Homo sapiens: one gene and its partner. The protein of the gene in region 1 purifies or fractionates together with the protein of each later gene. This does not show direct contact. Each region holds a gene or a part of one and is shown on either strand. Other genes may lie near its edges. The genes, in order: PFAS and SEPHS1.

Evidence for each region.
Region 2: the proteins of PFAS (region 1) and SEPHS1 fractionate together in Homo sapiens (co-fractionation; 2 studies listed by BioGRID). This does not show direct contact.

The regions. Positions count from the first base shown.
Region 1 is NC_000017.11:8,247,634-8,251,544, forward strand, and holds the start of PFAS (phosphoribosylformylglycinamidine synthase), read left to right. Parts: upstream 1-1,655; 5' UTR 1,656-1,706; intron 1,707-3,911. Other genes in the region: CST complex subunit CTC1, read right to left, coding at 371-403. UniProt on the Homo sapiens protein: Phosphoribosylformylglycinamidine synthase involved in the purines biosynthetic pathway. Catalyzes the ATP-dependent conversion of formylglycinamide ribonucleotide (FGAR) and glutamine to yield formylglycinamidine ribonucleotide (FGAM) and glutamate.
Region 2 is NC_000010.11:13,320,413-13,324,323, forward strand, and holds part of SEPHS1 (selenide, water dikinase 1), read right to left. Parts: intron 2,636-3,911; coding exon 2,423-2,635; intron 1-2,422. UniProt on the Homo sapiens protein: Synthesizes selenophosphate from selenide and ATP.

The DNA of each region.
Region 1 (3,911 bases):
ACGCACTTCGGGTCTCAGACGCTTTTACTTATTATGGTTGCCCTTTTCCCCTACAGCTCCGTCAAGGGTCTTCTCCAGGAACCCACAGCCCCATAGTTCCCCCATTAACCTGCTCCTGGTTTCCCACCAGGATTAAACCCTAGAGAGTGAACGGAGACCAGTTTAAGGCTCACAGCGGGCGCCGCGTGAATGAGGGAATAAACATTCGCAGAACCAGTAAGAGGTAGGAGCGGACCGACTCACAACCCCCTCACCCATGGGCCGGACGCGGCCAGCGAGCCCAGAGAGACAAGGCAGAGGAAATAGGAAGAGAAAGAGTATCTGTGACAAACAAGAAAAAAGGAACAAGAGACGTAATAGCAGCACTCACGGAGGAAGGGACCTGGGCCCGGCCAGCCGCCATGATGCGCCGGAGCTCCGCCCCCGGGAGGGGCAGGTGCTCGCTTGGGGGTGGGGATGGGGGTGGGGGGGCGCTCGGTGACGTCACCGGTGAGCGGGTTTCCTCGCCACCTCCAGCTCCTTCTCGCTGCTCACCCCCTCGCTTCCTAGAGACTCCGCGAGGCGCCTCGGTGCACCATCCCAACTCCCGACACCCCTGTCTCTTTTCTCTGATTTTTTTTTTTTTAAGACGAAGCCTGGTTCTGTCGCCCAGGCTGGAGTGCAGTGGCGCGATCTCGGCTCACTGCAACCCCCGCCTCCCAGGTTCAAGGGATTTTCCGGCCTCAGCCTCCTGAGTAGCTAGGATTACAGGCACCTGCCACCACCACGCCCGGCTAATTTTTTTTTTTTTTTTTTTTTTTGTATTTTTAGTAGAGACGGGGTTTCACCATGTGGCCAGGCTGGTCTCAAACTCCTGACCTCAGGTGATCCACCCGCCTCAGCCTCCCAAAGTGCTGGGATTACAGGCGTGAAACACAGCCCCTGGCCCTCTCTGATTTTTTTGAGACGAGGTCTCGCTCTATCGCCCAGGCTGGAGTGCAGCGGCGCCATCTCGGTTCACTGCAGCCTCGACCTCCCGGGCTCAAGCGATCCTCCCACCTCAGCCCACCAAGTAGCTGGGATCGCAGGCTTGCACCGCCACACCCGGCTAATTTTTGTATTTTTCTGTAGCGACATGGTTTCGCCATGTTGCCCAGACTGGTCTCGAACTCCTGGGCTCAAGCGATCTGCCCGCCTCGGGCTCCCAAAGTGCTCGGATTACAGGCGGGAGCCACCGCGCCCAGCCTCCGTCTCCCTCCTAAGTGACATCCTGTCCGGCATCCCGCAGGCCTTCAGATGGATGGGGTAGCAGAGCTCAGGAACTCAAACACAGCCCGCCTGGTGGATGACTTCTAAGCATCTTTCAGTCTCCCTGATCTTGCCAAGCAGAGAAGGGCTTCCTCGTAATGCCACCAAAGCACAACTTTCACATGCTTGCTTTATGGCCTTAACTAACTGATGTCATTACTTAACTGTCCCCGCGGGGACGGGGAACTGAATGTATTTTCACAAACGTCAGTTCAAGACAGATTTGTGGGAGAAACCACCTGGGGATAAACCTCTCCCCACCAAGAACCTAGAATTCGGCCGGGTGGCTGGGGAAAAGTGGGCGGGGCGTAGTCGCCCCGGCGCTGGCAGGTCCAGTCTCTGCCCGCGGCGCACGCGGATGACGTAACAAACGCGCGCGACGATTCGAGGTGCTCTGTGGCCGCGAGTGCATCTTCCACGTGAGTATAGTTACCGCGTGCGGACCTGGATCCTCCTCCAGGTGCAGCGTTTCGTCATCTAGCCCAAGCTTGGTCTGGCGGCTTCAGTATCCCCACCGGGCCGAGCTGTGTCTACTTGGTGCCCGCGTATTTGCTTTAGTGGAGGCGTCCATTCGTCCTATCTTGCGTGCGTTCCGCAGACCCCAGGCATGGCCGACCCCCATGTAAATTTAGCCCCATTGTCCCATTCATGGATTCAGCTAACAGAAAGACTGCCGGCCGCCTACTTTATATCAGGCACCATGCTGGTCATGGAATACAGCCCTCATGCACGCAAACCCTGTCTCTGAGCTCTTGAAGCTTATATTTTACTGGGAATGATAGACGGAAATCAAGTGGCTTAATAAACAAAATGCCTTCAGGAAGACTGTCCTGAAAGTTGGGGAGGGGCTGAAGAGTGGTGAGAATCAAGAGTTCATTAAGTCATTCCACAAGTTTTAGAATTTTTTTGCGTTTCAAGCCCTGGTATTGTTCTAAGCCTTGGTAATTCAATGGAAACGAAGCAGCAACATCCCATGCCCACGTAGAGATTTTTTTTCTAGTGGGGAATATAGAGCGAAAAATAAAAACATCCAATAGTGATAAGCGCTTTACAGGAAATTAAAATAGGGCCGGCCATCTGATAGTAACTACTTGAGTGGCTAGTGAAGCCTTTTCCACGAAGGCGAATCACCAGAAATCTAAATAACAAGAGCTAGCCATGCATATGTCAGGGTGAAAAAAATGCCTTCCAGGACTGAGCTTGGCAAGTTAGAGAAATAAAAAAGAAGCTAATGTGTGGTTGGTGCATTGTGGGTGAAAAAGAGAATGGTGTGAGATAGGGTTGGAAAGGTAGGCCAGAGAGTGGCCAGACTTGGTAAACCAGGATGCTGAGTTGGAATTTATACCATGTGTAATGGGAAGCCATAATCCACTTTATGCTGATGTGTGACAAATGAATTGTGGTTATGCAGTGGTCAGGAGGTTAATGCATTGGTCCAGGTGAGTGATGGTGGTGGCTTACTTGAACTAGAGTGAGGTAGTAGAGATGAAGAGATGAGAGATTTGAGACATGATTGGAAATAGATTTCCTGGTGGATTGGATTTAGAGAGTCTGAGGGAAAGAGAATTAAGGATGACTTCTGTGTTTTTGTCTTGAGCAACAAATTGGATGATGGTAGTGTTTACTGAGTGGCAAGACTAGGGGAACAGCAGAGTTTGGTGAGTAAAGCCAGGGTCCCGCTGAGAGGCAGTGGGACCAGAAATTGGATAGGTAGTTTGGGATAGATGGGGAGGGCCTTTGAATGTTAGGCTAAAAGTATTAACTGTAATAGTTCTGTTGCCTGATGCACACTGGAGGTCAATACACCAAGACACCAGGTTGCAGCAGAGAAAGAGGTTTAATCATAGGGCTGCTGAACAAGGAGACAGGAGGAAACCTCAAATCCATCTCCCAGAGTACTTTGGGGCTAGGGTTTTTAAAAAAGAGTTTGGAATAGGATTAGGATGAAGTGTGAAAATCATTGATTGAAGAGTGCAGGGTGAGGTCATGAAACAGGGAGATGAAGAAACTGATTCTCATGCTCACTTGGTTCCACTGTGGGAGTCTTTTTTTTTTTTTATTTTTTTTAATTTGAAAGATGAGGTCTGCCTGGCGCAGTCGCTCACGCCTATAATCCCAGCACTTTGGGAGGCTGAGGTGGGTGGATCACGAGTTCAAGAGATTGAGACCATCCTGGCGAACATGGTGAAACCCCATCTCTACTAAAAATACAAAAATTAGCTGGTCATGGTGGTGTGCACCTGTAGTCTCAGCTACTCGGGAGACCGAGGCAGGAGAATCGCGTGAACCCGCAAGGCAGAGGTTGCAGTGAGCCGAGATCGTGCCACTGTACTCCAGCCTGGCAACAGAGTGAGACCCCATCTCAAAAAAAGAAAAAGAAAGACGGGGTCTTGCTCTGTCACCCAGGCTGGAGTGCAGTGGCACAATCGTAGCTCACTGCAGCCTCAAACTCATGGGCTCAAGCGATCCTCTTACCTCAGCCTCTTGAGTAGCTGGGACCACAGGTACATGCCACCATGCCCCACTAATTTTTAATTTTTTTTTTTATAAAGACAGGGTCTTACCATGTTGCCCAGGGCTGGTCTCAAACTCCTGGGCTCAAGCAGTCCACTGCTTTGGCCTCC
Region 2 (3,911 bases), on another chromosome or scaffold:
CCTCGTGATCCACCCGCCTTGGCCTCCCAAAGTGCTGGGATTACAGGCGTGAGCCACTGCACCGGGCCAAAATTTATTTCTCTAAGTAGAAATAAGATGATGAGGAAAAACTGTAGTCTACTTCTACAAAATGTAAAAACCTTGTGGCTGGGCATGGTGGGTCACACGTGTAATCCCAGCACTTTGGGAGGCCGAGGCGGGTGGATCACCTGAGGTCAGGAGGTAGTTCAAGACCAGCCTGGCCAACATGGTAAAACCTCGTCTCTAAATTAGCTGGGCATGATGGCACAGCCCTGTAATCCCAGCTACTCGGGCTGAGGCAAGAGAATCGCTTGAACCGGGGAGGGGGAGGTTGCAGTGAGCTGAGATCGCGCCATTGCACTCCAGCCTGGGTGACAAGAGGAAAACTCCATCATAAAATTAAAAACTTCCTATTTCTGAAGAAAGGAAACAAATTTAAATGGCTGGTAACATTCGTCAATTCATTCAATTTCCATTCAGTGCCCAATTATGTGGCAGACACTGTCCTGGCCAGAGCCTGAACCAGCAGGGGAAAAAAACCCTGCCCTGTTGGAGCTTACTTCTAGAAAATGGTTTGTTTTTTTAAACGGGAGGCTGAAGCGTCCTCTATAAAGGCGGTGAGAGGCCTGGCAGAGTCCTGAAGCCCCCTCGCCACAGCACAGGTCGACGTGACCAGGGCTTTGTGGTCCCAGCACTGTGGTCCCTTGCCCCGGCCTACTACGGAATCTCCCAGGCAGCCTTCACAGATGCTGAGGCCCAGGCCCACCCGAGATGGATCCCACCGTTTTTGGGAGGCTGGGGCTAGGCATGTGTATTTTTCTTTTTTTTTTTGAGACAGAGTCTCACTCTGTCGCCCAGGCTGTAGTGCAGTGGGGCGATCTTGGCTCACTGCAACCTGTGCCTCCTGGGTTCAAGCGATTCTCCTGCCTCAGCCTCTGGAGTAGCTGGGATTACAGGGCACACGCCACGACGCCCCGCTAATTTTTGTATTTTTAGTAGAGACAGGGTTTCACCATGTTGGTCAGGCTGGTCTCGAACTCCTGACCTCGACCTCCCAAAGTGCTGGAATTACAGGCGTGAGCCACCAGGCCTGGCCGGCATGTGTATATTTAAAATCCTAAGGTGATTCCACTCTTTTGCGGGTAGAAAACTAGAGTTCTAGAGGAAAGGAAATAGAAAAAGAGAGAAACCGAAAAAAAGGGAAAAACAGGGAGACTTAAAAGATGAAAACAGTAAAGGTAAAGGGAACAAAGGGGGCAAAAGAGAAATGGTACTTCAGGAGGACGCGCCATCTGGCTCCAGCTGGGGCTGCGGGAGTGGGAATGAGCGATGGCGAGCCTGTAGGCTGTGGGTGGCGGCCTCGGCGGCCGGCAGGCCATGCTGGAGTACCTGCCATGATGAAGAGGAGGACGTCCCACAAGTTCCGGACAGATGTGGCCACCAAATTAATCAGGAAACAAAAGGAGCTTAATCTTAGAAAAATGATAAGGGATATAAAAGCTCCCTAGGAGTCAAACTACTGGGGCGTATGGTGTCAGACCTGCACTGCTGTCTGATGGCTCTCTCTACCTACGCTTGCTCCATCTCCCGTTTATCCTCCATTTATGTTTCCTCTAATAAATTACTGCACATCTAAGAAAAAAGAAAAATGGCATTTTAAAGACATAATATCCTATTGCATTCTTTTTTATTCTGTATCATTCTCTTTTCTTTTTTTTTTTTTTTTAAGGCAGAATCTCGCTCTGTCACCCAGGCTGGAGTGCAGTGGCGCAATCTCGGCTCACTGCAACCTCTGTCTCCCAGGTTCAAGTGATTCTCCTGGCTCAGCCTCCCAAGCAGCTGGGATTAAAGGCATGGACCACCACGCCCAGCTACTTTTTTTTTGTATTTTTAGTGAAGATGGGGTTTCACCATGTTGGCCAGGCTGGTCTTCAACTCCTGATCTCACGTGATGTGCCTGCCTCAGCCTCCTGAGGTGCCAGTATTACAGGCAAGAGCCACCACACCTGGCCCCTTTTCTCTCTATCATTCTTAAAACAACGTTAGACAATTTTCAAGGAAAAAAATATCACCTGTTCAAAGTAACCTAGGGGTATTACAGTTAATTTCAAATGCGAAGCTTTCAGTAAAAACTGAATGCTACCTTATTTCCCCCATCACCATATCCTTGCATCAAAAAGAGCACAGGCCACTCAACCTCAGCAAGGCTGCTGGATCCACCCAGGATGGCGGGGACCAGACCCACCGGGAGGAGGAAAGGCACCAGCTGCTGCGGAGGCCGAGGTCAGCAGCATGGAACTCGAACAGAGTGGGGGCCCACTCGGGGTGGGGCTGCTGCTTTCTCGCTGAGCTTTCTGTTAGCCTCACTATTTAGTCCTCAGATGCGCCCAGCATCCTGTACCTGAAGTCTCCGGGCAGGTCCCGTGCATGAGGCCGAACATGTTTCCGCAGGCCTTGCTCACCGCAGCCATCTTGGCCAGCACCGGGAGGTTGTGAATTACAAACGACACCTCGTTCCTCTGCTGCTTGGCCAGGTTCTGCGCATGGCCCAAAATCCCGAAGCCCGTGATGTCAGTGGCGGCGTGGGCATTGAACGTGTGCATGAGTCCTGCAGCTGGGAGAGAGAGGGGGCGGCTCTGAGAAAAAACACCTTTCCTCAACTCAAAAATCTTACGTCCACAATTAATCTGCAACTTCCTTACTTGTCAGGGAGATGACGTATCGGAATAATGAAAACGCAATGTAAAATCAACCAAAGACATAGTGAAATTCCAAAAGTTCTTATTTCACTTTGAGCCACCTGAAAACTATCAGAAGCTTCAATTAATAGTAGTTTTCCAGTAAACTAAAAAAACTATGCAGAGGGATTATGATCTCAGTGGAAGGTAAACCGGCCAAGACCATCCTAAAACCAAAGACCGGCACTTTTTTCCTTTTTTGAGATGGAGTCTCGCTCTGTCATCCAGGCTGGGGTGCAGTCGTACGATCTCGGCTCACTGCAACCTCTGCCTCCAGGGCTCAAGTGATTCTCCTGCCTCAGCCTCCTGAATAGCTGGGACTACAGGTGCGCACCACCACGCCCAGCTAATTTCTGTATTTTTAGCAGAGACAGGGTTTCACCATATTGGCCAGGCTGATCTTGAACTCCTGACCTCATGATCCGCCCGCCCTGGCCTCCCAAAGTGCTGGGATTACAGATGTGAGCCACCACACCCGGCCAAGACCAGCACTTTTTAAGAAGGCCTTGCTCAGTATCAAGGTACTCCCGCGAAAGGTGAATTGCGTGCAAGTTTATTTTTAAATTTCTTTCTTTTTTTTTTTTTTAAGAGACAGAGTCTTGCTCTATTGACCAGGCTGGAGTGCAGTGGCATGATCATAACTCACTGCACTTGGGCTCAGGCAATCGTCCTGCCTCAGCCTCCCAAAGCGCTGGGATCACAAGTGTGAGCCACTGCTCAATAATATTCCATACTACAGATACACTACATTTTGTTTATCCATTCATCCACTCACCTACTATTATTTAATTATCCATTCACCCGACCTATTATTTAATTTTAAAAAAATTTACAGACTTTATTTTTTGGAGCAGTTTTGCGTTTAGAAAGAAATTAAGTGGGAAGTAACAAATCCTCAGTGCTCTGCTCTACCTGATCCCCTTCCTCTCCGATAACCTCTGGCCACCACTGATCCTTTCTGCATCTCTACAGTTTTGCAGAATGTCATGCAGTTGGAATCCTTCTGTATGGAGCTTTTTCAGACTGGCTTCTTTCACTTAGTAATATGCACTTAAGATTCCTCCACATCTTTTCATGGCTTGATAGCTCATTTCTTTTTACTGCTCAATTATATTCCATCATACAGATACACTACATTTTGTTTATCCATTC